Linked DNA regions of Homo sapiens. The protein of the gene in region 1 interacts with the protein of each later gene in a biochemical or structural test. Each region holds a gene or a part of one and is shown in the gene's direction. Other genes may lie near its edges. The genes, in order: SYNGAP1 and PDGFRB.

Region 1 (7,280 bases):
CAGTAGCTTCCTGGGGCTGCTATAACAAACTGCTACAAACTGGGTCACGTAAAACAACAGAAATTTATTCTCTCACAGTTCAGGAGGCTGGAAGTCCAAAAGCAAGGTATCAGCAGGGCCACGCTCTCTTTGATGCTGTAGCAGGGAATCCTTCCTTGCCTCTTCCTAGCTTCCGGAGGTTGCCAGCAGTCCTTGGCATTCCTGGGCTTATAACTGCATCCGTCTAATTTCTGCCTCCATCTTCATGTAGCTGGCTTCCTTCTGTGTGTCTCTGTATCCTGTATCTCTGTGTCTCCAAATCTCCCTCTCCATATAAAGACACCAGTTTTTATAAGGTGGGTTAAGGGTCCACTCTAATTCAGTATGGCCTCTTTTTTTTGAGATGGAATATCGCTCTTGTTTCCCAGGCTTGGAGTGCAATGGCATGAGCTCAGCTCACTGCAACCTCCGCCTTCCAGGTTCAAGTGATTCTCCTGCCTCAGCCTCCTGAGTAGCTGGGATTACAGGCACGTGCCACTATGCCCAGCTAATTTGTTTTTGTATTTTTATTAGAGACGGGGTTTCACTATGTTGGCCAGGCTGGCTCGAACTCCTGACCTCAGGCAATCCACCCACCTCGGCCTCCCAAAGTGCTGGGATTACAGGAATGAGATACCATGGCTGGCCTCTTCTTAGTTTGATTACATTTGCAGGGATCCTGTTTCCAAATAAGATCACATTCACAGGTTCAGGGTAGACATGAGTTTTGGTGGGATACTATTCAACCCAGTACACCGTCTCACCTTATGATTGCTGTCTGTATCCCACTTTCTTACTGTCTCTCCTCTTTTGGTGTCTCTCTGTCCCTTCCCCCTTTAACATCATGCCCACCCCACCATGCCAGGACAACAGCCGCCGGGTAGACAATGTGCTAAAGCTGTGGATCATAGAGGCCCGGGAGCTGCCCCCCAAGAAGCGGTACTACTGTGAGCTCTGCCTGGATGACATGCTGTATGCACGCACCACCTCCAAGCCCCGCTCTGCCTCTGGGGACACCGTCTTCTGGGGCGAGCACTTCGAGTTTAACAACCTGCCGGCTGTCCGTGCCCTGCGGCTGCATCTGTACCGTGACTCAGACAAAAAGCGCAAGAAGGACAAGGCAGGCTATGTCGGCCTGGTGACTGTGCCAGTGGCCACCCTGGCTGGGCGCCACTTCACAGAGCAGTGGTACCCTGTAACCCTGCCAACAGGCAGTGGGGGATCTGGGGGCATGGGTTCGGGAGGGGGAGGGGGCTCGGGGGGTGGCTCAGGGGGCAAGGGCAAAGGAGGTTGCCCGGCTGTGCGGCTGAAAGCACGTTACCAGACAATGAGCATCTTGCCCATGGAGCTATATAAAGAGTTTGCAGAGTATGTCACCAACCATTATCGGATGCTGTGTGCAGTCTTGGAGCCCGCCCTGAATGTCAAAGGCAAGGAGGAGGTTGCCAGTGCACTAGTTCACATCCTGCAGAGTACAGGCAAGGCCAAGGTGAGTGTTGTGCCCTCAGGGAAAGGTGACTTGGGAATGGGCACTTGCTTGGGGGTTAGTGAGGACAGGGCAAATTCACGAGATTGGGTTGTGCAGAGGCTGACACTTGGATTTTCCTGGGCCTCAGGACTTCCTTTCAGACATGGCCATGTCTGAGGTAGACCGGTTCATGGAACGGGAGCACCTCATATTCCGCGAGAACACGCTTGCCACTAAAGCCATAGAAGAGTATATGAGACTGATTGGTCAGAAATACCTCAAGGATGCCATTGGTATGGCCCACACTCAGGCCCTCTTCTTCCCAAACCTGCCAGATGTCCACCCCAGACCCCAAGTCCACCCTTCCACAGCTTGATACTTCCTAACCCAGAGTCCTAGGACTCCAGCCTCCAACACCTGATTCTGAAATTTCCCCAACCCTGGCCACCCCCTTCCCTGCCCTTGGAAAGTGTGACCACACCCTCTTGTGCCCCCACCCCCCAGGAGAATTCATCCGTGCTCTGTATGAATCTGAGGAAAACTGCGAGGTAGACCCTATCAAGTGCACAGCATCCAGTTTGGCAGAGCACCAGGCCAACCTGCGAATGTGCTGTGAGTTGGCCCTGTGCAAGGTGGTCAACTCCCACTGGTGAGACTGGGAACGCTGGGCTGGGGGGCCAGGGTCGGGGGAATTATGTGTTCATCTGTTCATCTATCTGTCCATCCTCAAAGAGGACTGAGCACCATTTATGGGCAAAGCATTGTTCTAGGCGCTATAGAGCAAACAGGTGAAAGAGGCCTGGTCCCTGCCCTCAGAGGGCCTCCACCAGAATGGGGACAAATTAGAAGAAAAAAAAAAAAAGCCACAGAGCCATAATGGTGTGTAAGTGCTGAGTAAGGGTCCCCCCAACCTCTGTGTGACATAAGGTCAGAGAGAAGGCAGAGCTTTGAGATAAGTGGGGAAGAGGTGCCCCCTTGGGTAGGCTTTGAAGACTGGTTTAGGTTCTGATATATGGACATAGTTGGCAAGAAAGACATTTCAGAAGAAGGCTGTGAGAAAGGCACATGTGTGATGGTGAAAAGGCCCAGGAGTTTTCAGGGGACATTAAAGTAGGTTAGTAGCAATTACATCAGGTTTAGTGGAGCATGTGCCTCATAATGGGGAGTGGCGGGAGAGATGTCTGGGCAGGAAGATTAGCTTTAGAAACTGGAAGGCCTCAAGGAGTCTGAGGTCATTGGTAGGCCTTGGGATGCCATTAAAGGTGTCAGAAATATTGTGATTTAGAAGATTAATCCATAGGCTGGGCACGGTGGCTCACACCTGTAATACCAGCACTTTGGGAGGCTGAGGCGGGCAGACCACCTGAGGTCAGGAGTTTGAGACCAGGCTGACCAACATGGAGAAACCCTGTCTCTACTAAAAATACAAAATTAGCCAGATGTGGTGGCACATGCCTGTAATCCCAGCTATTCGGGAGGCTAAGGCAGGAGAATCACTTGAATCTGGGAGGTGGAGGTTGTAGTGAGCCGAGATCACACGATTGCACTCTAGCCTGGGCAACAAGAGTGAAACTCCATCTCAAAAAAAAAAAATTAATCCATAAGTAGAGTGTATGTAGTAGAGTAGAGGGATGTATGTTGGGGGATGACTGGAATAGAGCCAGCTGGGGGCTCGGAGGCATGAAAGTCAGATCCTGAATCAGAACAGTGACAGAAGTTAGGAAGGAGCTACTGGAAGGACCCTCTCGGGAAAGGATCAGTAGGAATTGTCAGCTTATTGGAAAGGAGGGAGCATGTCTGTGGGGAGTCACGGATGACTCAAGAGGCCATGAGGCTGGTGGTTGGGAGACCGGTGGCCTCATTGACAACCAGGAAAGTCAGGAGGAGGAGCCAGTTGGAGGTGTGGGGGCGATGGTGAGCTCTGCTTTACACCAGCCGAGTTTAAGGTGTCAGTGGGACATTGAAGTGGAACTGGGAGGTGCGGGGAGTGAGCTCTGAGCCATTCCAGGGACTGGGGATCATGCCTGGGGCACCTCCATCCCCATTTCCCTGGAATCCAGAAGAGTTGGGGGGTCCGAGCTCCCTGTACCTCAAGTGACCCTCCATCTCTCTCCCATCTCTGTCTCTCCCTGGTGTCTGTTTTTCTTCTCCTCCTCTCCTTGTCTCTCTCCCACACCCCTCCATCTCTCTCCCACGTGTCTCTCCCCTCACCTTCTCTCCCCCTCCATTTCTCTCTCCCTAATCTGTCTGTTCCCTCTGCCATGGCCCCCTTCTTCAAGCAGCCTCCCATCTTGCTCCTGCGGTCCCTCCTTCCCTGTCTCTCTCACCCCTGTTTCCACACCCTCACCTCCTACCACCCCCCTCAGCATGTTCCCTGGAAGCTGAGGGTCTCTGGGGCTCAGTCCCGGTCTCTCTCTTTCTCTCTCTCTCTCTCTGTCTCCCCGACCCTTCCCCCCAGCGTGTTCCCGAGGGAGCTGAAGGAGGTGTTTGCTTCGTGGCGGCTGCGCTGCGCAGAGCGAGGCCGGGAGGACATCGCAGACAGGCTTATCAGCGCCTCACTCTTCCTGCGCTTCCTCTGCCCAGCGATTATGTCGCCCAGTCTCTTTGGGCTTATGCAGGAGTACCCAGATGAGCAGACCTCACGAACCCTCACCCTCATTGCCAAGGTCATCCAGAACCTGGCCAACTTTTCCAAGTGAGGGAAGCTTCAGGAGTGGGCAGGGCAGGGAGTGGCAGGGCAGGGAGTGGCAGGGCTGGGGGTCGGCAAGAAGGGTCTCCTGAGTCCCCAGAGATCCTGAGATGGGGAGGCTATGATACCTTGTGTGTGTGTGTATGTGTGTGTATGTGTGTGTGTGTGTGTGTGTGTGTGTATGTGACCTTTATCTTCTGCATTCTTGGCTAGGTTTACCTCAAAGGAGGACTTTCTGGGCTTCATGAATGAGTTTCTGGAGCTGGAATGGGGTTCCATGCAGCAGTTTTTGTATGAGATCTCCAATCTGGACACGCTAACCAACAGCAGTAGCTTTGAGGGTTACATCGACTTGGGCCGAGAGCTCTCCACACTGCATGCCCTACTCTGGGAGGTGCTGCCCCAGCTCAGCAAGGTCAGCAGATCCCCTCTTTGCCCTATCCCCAGATGGCTCCAGAGGTTCCTGGAGCCTGAGAAACTACCCTTTGAAGATTTTTTTTCTCCCCTTGTTTCTCGAGGTGTCACCACTACTATCCCAACTCAGGCCCCCTCCACCTGCACCCTCAGAGGCCCTCTTAGAGCTGGGCACTGAGCCCCCAGGTAACAGCCTCACCCTTCCAGGAAGCCCTCCTGAAGCTGGGTCCACTGCCCCGGCTCCTCAACGACATCAGCACAGCTCTGAGGAACCCCAACATCCAAAGGCAGCCAAGCCGCCAGAGTGAGCGGCCCCGGCCTCAGCCTGTGGTACTGCGGGGGCCATCGGCTGAGATGCAGGGCTACATGATGCGGGACCTCAACAGGTGAGCACCCTGGGACAGCCAGGCCTGTGCCCTAGGAGCCCTTCTCCTATTCTAGATACTCCTCACTGGGCCCCACATGCATCTCTCTAGGGCTTGAAAGAAGGGAGGAAAAAGCACCAAGTTCTCAGGGGAGACGATAAGGAGACAGGTACAGTCAGTGGTAGGCTGAGAGCCCTTTACAGCCTGAGGGAGTGAGAGATTTGGAGCTCTAGGAATAGGGCTGAGGCTCCACCAACTCACGGCTTAGTTGTAAGCCTAGAGCATCCCTGCTGCAAGCTCTGATTTGCTGTCCCTCTGCCTGCCCATGCTAGTCCCCAGGCTGAGGTTCAGCCAGCATGTCATGTCAGCCATGTGTCAAAATGTTCAAACATCTCAGTAATAGCTAGTGAATAAGCACTTCCCCCAGCCCCCGACCACAACCCCACAGACCTCCCCATGATCCAGCACTTAGAGCAGTGACAGCAGAAGCCTAGCAGGGCCTGCAGCCTGCTCCAGAGTCCCAGCCTCCATTCTGATAGGTGGTGCCCGTGCTTCATTTGCTGCTCATTATTTTGATGATGGCCCTGCTTTTTCCTCTGCCCGTGTCTTCCTCCATGACACCATACCCATCCCACCATTCCCGCCTCTCCTTTCATTTGTCCACATCTCTCTCCTTCTCTGTCTGTGCTCGCCCCTCTTTCCATCTCTCTCCAGCTCCATCGACCTTCAGTCCTTCATGGCTCGAGGCCTCAACAGGTGAGGGGCTCTCCCCTCCCCCGCCCTCCTCTCCTCTCCTGTCTGTTCCCTCTCCCACTCCACTGGCCTTCGCCCTACTCCTCTCCTCTCCTCCTCCATGGACCTCATCTCCTCCATATGTGCCCAGCCCTGCCCCCATCCCTTCTCTTGCTGCCCCCATCTCCCCTCCTCTAGGCCTCACCCCCTTCCCGGAGGGGCCCTGTCCTTTCCCTTTACTCACCTGTCCCCTCCCATCCTCCCTGCCTGCCCTCTTCAGGGCTGCCACCGCTAGCTCTCAGCCCTTCCCTCTGGGTCCCACTTTTCACCCCAAGGCCTGTGCCAGACCACAGCAAGGTTCAATTGCTAGGAGCCCTGACCTTACCTTCTGCTTGTGTGCCCCCTTCCCTTCTGACAGCTCTATGGACATGGCTCGCCTCCCCTCCCCAACCAAGGAAAAGCCACCCCCACCACCGCCTGGTGGTGGTAAAGACCTGTTCTATGTAAGCCGTCCACCCCTGGCCCGTTCCTCACCAGCATACTGCACGAGCAGCTCGGACATCACAGAGCCAGAGCAGAAGATGCTGAGTGTCAACAAGAGTGTGTCCATGCTGGACTTACAGGGTGATGGGCCTGGTGGCCGCCTCAACAGCAGCAGTGTTTCGAACCTGGCGGCCGTAGGGGACCTGCTGCACTCAAGCCAGGCCTCGCTGACAGCAGCCTTGGGGCTACGGCCTGCGCCTGCCGGACGCCTCTCCCAGGGGAGTGGCTCATCCATCACGGCGGCTGGCATGCGCCTCAGCCAGATGGGTGTCACCACAGACGGTGTCCCTGCCCAGCAACTGCGAATCCCCCTCTCCTTCCAGAACCCTCTCTTCCACATGGCTGCTGATGGGCCAGGTCCCCCAGGCGGCCATGGAGGGGGCGGTGGCCATGGCCCACCTTCCTCCCATCACCACCACCACCACCATCACCACCACCGAGGTGGAGAGCCCCCTGGGGACACCTTTGCCCCATTCCATGGCTATAGCAAGAGTGAGGACCTCTCTTCCGGGGTCCCCAAGCCCCCTGCTGCCTCCATCCTTCATAGCCACAGCTACAGTGATGAGTTTGGACCCTCTGGCACTGACTTCACCCGTCGGCAGCTTTCACTCCAGGACAACCTGCAGCACATGCTGTCCCCTCCCCAGATCACCATTGGTCCCCAGAGGCCAGCCCCCTCAGGGCCTGGAGGTGGGAGCGGTGGGGGCAGCGGTGGGGGTGGCGGGGGCCAGCCGCCTCCATTGCAGAGGGGCAAGTCTCAGCAGTTGACAGTCAGCGCAGCCCAGAAACCCCGGCCATCCAGCGGGAATCTATTGCAGTCCCCAGAGCCAAGTTATGGCCCCGCCCGTCCACGGCAACAGAGCCTCAGCAAGGAGGGCAGCATTGGGGGCAGCGGGGGCAGCGGTGGCGGAGGGGGTGGGGGGCTGAAGCCCTCCATCACCAAGCAGGTAGGTGAAGGCAGGAGGAAGGCGGGCTGGGTCACAACAGGGAGGGAAGAAGGAGATGGGGGGTGGGGTTGAAACAGAGTCTGTGGCCTGAAGTTACAATCTTC
Region 2 (4,787 bases), on another chromosome or scaffold:
AACCATGTGGCTTGGGCAAATCCCTTTCCCCTCTGAGCAGCGGGGGTCTTATTTATACAAAGGGGGATGGGCTCGGTTAGAAGATCCCTGAAGGCATTTCTGGCCTGACCATCCCTGTTTCTTTGGTTCTCCCTGCCCCGGGAGCAGAAGTACCAGCAGGTGGATGAGGAGTTTCTGAGGAGTGACCACCCAGCCATCCTTCGGTCCCAGGCCCGCTTGCCTGGGTTCCATGGCCTCCGATCTCCCCTGGACACCAGCTCCGTCCTCTATACTGCCGTGCAGCCCAATGAGGGTGACAACGACTATATCATCCCCCTGCCTGACCCCAAACCCGAGGTTGCTGACGAGGGCCCACTGGAGGGTTCCCCCAGCCTAGCCAGGTAACCACCCTGGCCTGGGGCCAAGGAAATTGTGCACAGTGTGTGTGTGTGTGTGTGTGTGTGTGTGTGTGTGCGCGCGCGCGCGCGCGCTGCCAGGTTTGCCTCAGAGGTAAGTTACGTAGGGTAAGTACTTATCCCTACCAATGAATAGAAGACAGAATGGAACTCATTTGAACTTTGATGCCCTGAGGTGGAAAGGGCAGGCTAGTAAAAACAAAAGTATGGGCTGGGACTTACTTGCAAGGTAGCTATTTCCTTTAAGGGAGCCCCCAGAGGTTATCTATACTCTCTTATCTCTAGGTCCTGTCCTAGCCCCAAAAAGAAGAAGCAAACCTACTTAGCATCCCCAGCACCCCAGCTGTTACTCATGGCCAGCCTGAGGCCTATGTTCTGTTCTTCAGCACCACGCCCTGGGGCCAGAGGGAGCCTGCTTGGTTGTAGGAGTCAGAGGTGCCTAAAGGAATTCAGGACAGAATTCAGACTGGGAAGGAGATTCGTGGTTTTCTTTTGCCTTGGGAAGTGGTGAAGTTACAGCCCAGAGGGGGCTTTATAGGAGGACCCTGCTGTTGTGTGGACTTGATGTCCACGCAGGATCTCCCCTTAACTGGAGAGAAGGGCTCCCCATGAGGCCACGCCCACCTCCAAAGCGAGATCCAGCCCAAGGTGAAGTGGCTGGAGCCCCAGGCTGGGGTACTGTCCCAACTCTGCCACTAGCCGCTGAGACCTGGGAAGGCTTCTCCTCTGCGAGCCTCAGTTTCTCCATATGTGCCAGGAGTGCACACCGGCCTTAGAAGGCTCCGAAGGCCCTCATTGCTCTAACTGTTGAAGAGGCCAACCATCCAAGAGTCCCAGTGGATGGTGCAGAGGAGTGAAGTGCAGCGCTCACACAGCTTGAGGTGTGAATGCTCACCCTGTTTTGTGCCCTCAGACAAGCTGCTTCACTGTCTAAACATTGGTGTCCTCTTCTTTTTTTTTTTATTATTTTTATTCATTTATTTATTTATTTTTGAGATGGAGTTTCGCTCTTGTTGCCCAGGCTGGAGTGCAATGGCGCGATCTCGGCTCACTGCAACCTCCACCTCCCAGGTTCAAGCAATTCTCCTGCCTCAGCCTCCCGAGTAGCTGGAATTACAGGCATGCAGCACCACGCCTGGCTAATTTTGTATTTTTAGTAGAGTTGGGGTTTCTCCATGTTGAGACTGGTCTCAACCTCCTGACCTCAGGTGATCCGCCTGCCTCGGCCTCCCAAAGTGCTGGGATTACAGATGTGAGCCACCACGCCCGGCCAGTGTCTTCTTCTGTAAAATACAAACAGTAAAAGTACTTCTATTAGGCGGTCATTGCAAGGATTAAATGAGATAGCATACACCTTTAGGAGTGCAGAGGAGGGAGATGCTGGTGGGTGAGAAACGAGCTTTGGAGCCAGCTGACCCTGCTCCGAAGTTCCAGCTCCTGCACTTCCCTGCTGTGTGAAGTGGGGCAGTGATATAACCTCTCTGAGCCACACTTTCCTCACGGTGCAGGCCTTGCATAGTTTTCACAAGAGTTAAATGAGCCGGAGTGTGTGAAGCCTACGGTGCAGGGGTGGACACACCGAAGGCTCTTCATGACTGCTGCTGGAATCCTCCTGGGCTCCTTCCTAGCCCCTCACTCACTGCCTCTTTCCTCTAGCTCCACCCTGAATGAAGTCAACACCTCCTCAACCATCTCCTGTGACAGCCCCCTGGAGCCCCAGGACGAACCAGAGCCAGAGCCCCAGCTTGAGCTCCAGGTGGAGCCGGAGCCAGAGCTGGAACAGTTGCCGGATTCGGGGTGCCCTGCGCCTCGGGCGGAAGCAGAGGATAGCTTCCTGTAGGGGGCTGGCCCCTACCCTGCCCTGCCTGAAGCTCCCCCCCTGCCAGCACCCAGCATCTCCTGGCCTGGCCTGACCGGGCTTCCTGTCAGCCAGGCTGCCCTTATCAGCTGTCCCCTTCTGGAAGCTTTCTGCTCCTGACGTGTTGTGCCCCAAACCCTGGGGCTGGCTTAGGAGGCAAGAAAACTGCAGGGGCCGTGACCAGCCCTCTGCCTCCAGGGAGGCCAACTGACTCTGAGCCAGGGTTCCCCCAGGGAACTCAGTTTTCCCATATGTAAAATGGGAAAGTTAGGCTTGATGACCCAGAATCTAGGATTCTCTCCCTGGCTGACAGGTGGGGAGACCGAATCCCTCCCTGGGAAGATTCTTGGAGTTACTGAGGTGGTAAATTAACTTTTTTCTGTTCAGCCAGCTACCCCTCAAGGAATCATAGCTCTCTCCTCGCACTTTTATCCACCCAGGAGCTAGGGAAGAGACCCTAGCCTCCCTGGCTGCTGGCTGAGCTAGGGCCTAGCCTTGAGCAGTGTTGCCTCATCCAGAAGAAAGCCAGTCTCCTCCCTATGATGCCAGTCCCTGCGTTCCCTGGCCCGAGCTGGTCTGGGGCCATTAGGCAGCCTAATTAATGCTGGAGGCTGAGCCAAGTACAGGACACCCCCAGCCTGCAGCCCTTGCCCAGGGCACTTGGAGCACACGCAGCCATAGCAAGTGCCTGTGTCCCTGTCCTTCAGGCCCATCAGTCCTGGGGCTTTTTCTTTATCACCCTCAGTCTTAATCCATCCACCAGAGTCTAGAAGGCCAGACGGGCCCCGCATCTGTGATGAGAATGTAAATGTGCCAGTGTGGAGTGGCCACGTGTGTGTGCCAGTATATGGCCCTGGCTCTGCATTGGACCTGCTATGAGGCTTTGGAGGAATCCCTCACCCTCTCTGGGCCTCAGTTTCCCCTTCAAAAAATGAATAAGTCGGACTTATTAACTCTGAGTGCCTTGCCAGCACTAACATTCTAGAGTATTCCAGGTGGTTGCACATTTGTCCAGATGAAGCAAGGCCATATACCCTAAACTTCCATCCTGGGGGTCAGCTGGGCTCCTGGGAGATTCCAGATCACACATCACACTCTGGGGACTCAGGAACCATGCCCCTTCCCCAGGCCCCCAGCAAGTCTCAAGAACACAGCTGCACAGGCCTTGACTTAGAGTGACAGCCGGTGTCCTGGAAAGCCCCCAGCAGCTGCCCCAGGGACATGGGAAGACCACGGGACCTCTTTCACTACCCACGATGACCTCCGGGGGTATCCTGGGCAAAAGGGACAAAGAGGGCAAATGAGATCACCTCCTGCAGCCCACCACTCCAGCACCTGTGCCGAGGTCTGCGTCGAAGACAGAATGGACAGTGAGGACAGTTATGTCTTGTAAAAGACAAGAAGCTTCAGATGGGTACCCCAAGAAGGATGTGAGAGGTGGGCGCTTTGGAGGTTTGCCCCTCACCCACCAGCTGCCCCATCCCTGAGGCAGCGCTCCATGGGGGTATGGTTTTGTCACTGCCCAGACCTAGCAGTGACATCTCATTGTCCCCAGCCCAGTGGGCATTGGAGGTGCCAGGGGAGTCAGGGTTGTAGCCAAGACGCCCCCGCACGGGGAGGGTTGGGAAGGGGGTGCAGGAAGCTCAACCCCTCTGGGCACCAACCCTGCATTGCAGGTTGGCACCTTACTTCCCTGGGATCCCCAGAGTTGGTCCAAGGAGGGAGAGTGGGTTCTCAATACGGTACCAAAGATATAATCACCTAGGTTTACAAATATTTTTAGGACTCACGTTAACTCACATTTATACAGCAGAAATGCTATTTTGTATGCTGTTGAGTTTTTCTATCTGTGTACTTTTTTTTAAGGGAAAGATTTTAATATTAAACCTGGTGCTTCTCACTCACAGACTTTGTGGTCTCTCTCGGGTTTGGGTTCCTGCCCATAGGGAGTGTGGAGTGGGGCACATGAGGCTCACCCAGACGCAGACCCCCAGACAGGTCCCTTCAGCTCTGAGTCTCATTTCATTCATCTGTAAAGTGGGGATTTTCGCTCTCCCACCCCTCGCTGGAAGCTGGGGGGCCTAGACCTTGGGCTTGGTTTCCCAAGGTGGGAAGCGAGCAGGCTTTTCTGGCTCCACAGAGCCTGGCCTTGAGTCGGGCAGGAGGGTGTGGGGCTGCAGGGCTGCTCCAAGGCTCTGGTGCTGAGGCGTCTCACTGCCTCCACCATGTGCTTTGGCTTTGGCTATCAGCTGGGACACCCTCCCCTCCACTCCGCCCACAGGCCCGGATTGAGGCCGGCGTGCTCTGTGACAGGCAGCTGCTAGAGCCCAGATTCCAGGTCCAGGTGAGTCATGATCAGGCCCCAGGTAGGAGAAGGGCAGACAGAGTGTCCAAAAGCGTGAGAGCACGAAGTGAGGAGAAGGTGGAGAAGAGAGAAGAGGAAGAGGAAGAGGAAGAGAGGAAGCGGAGGGAACTGCGGCCAGGGTAAGGACAGGGGAGGGAATAGGGTGGCGACCAGGCTGTGGCTTTGAGGG

What was found.
Region 2: the proteins of SYNGAP1 (region 1) and PDGFRB form a complex in vitro, tested with the Homo sapiens proteins (one study listed by BioGRID).

Annotation. Positions count from the first base shown.
Region 1 is NC_000006.12:33,436,785-33,444,064, forward strand, and holds part of SYNGAP1 (ras/Rap GTPase-activating protein SynGAP), read left to right. Parts: intron 1-578; exon of another isoform or gene 579-697; intron 698-883; coding exon 884-1,507; intron 1,508-1,546; exon of another isoform or gene 1,547-1,634; coding exon 1,635-1,779; intron 1,780-1,990; coding exon 1,991-2,135; intron 2,136-3,944; coding exon 3,945-4,181; intron 4,182-4,388; coding exon 4,389-4,590; intron 4,591-4,796; coding exon 4,797-4,975; intron 4,976-5,668; coding exon 5,669-5,710; intron 5,711-6,104; coding exon 6,105-7,176; intron 7,177-7,280. UniProt on the Homo sapiens protein: Major constituent of the PSD essential for postsynaptic signaling. Inhibitory regulator of the Ras-cAMP pathway.
Region 2 is NC_000005.10:150,113,211-150,117,997, reverse strand, and holds the end of PDGFRB (platelet-derived growth factor receptor beta isoform 1 precursor), read left to right. Parts: intron 1-147; coding exon 148-380; intron 381-2,051; coding exon 2,052-2,235; 3' UTR 2,236-4,159; downstream 4,160-4,787. UniProt on the Homo sapiens protein: Tyrosine-protein kinase that acts as a cell-surface receptor for homodimeric PDGFB and PDGFD and for heterodimers formed by PDGFA and PDGFB, and plays an essential role in the regulation of embryonic development, cell proliferation, survival, differentiation, chemotaxis and migration.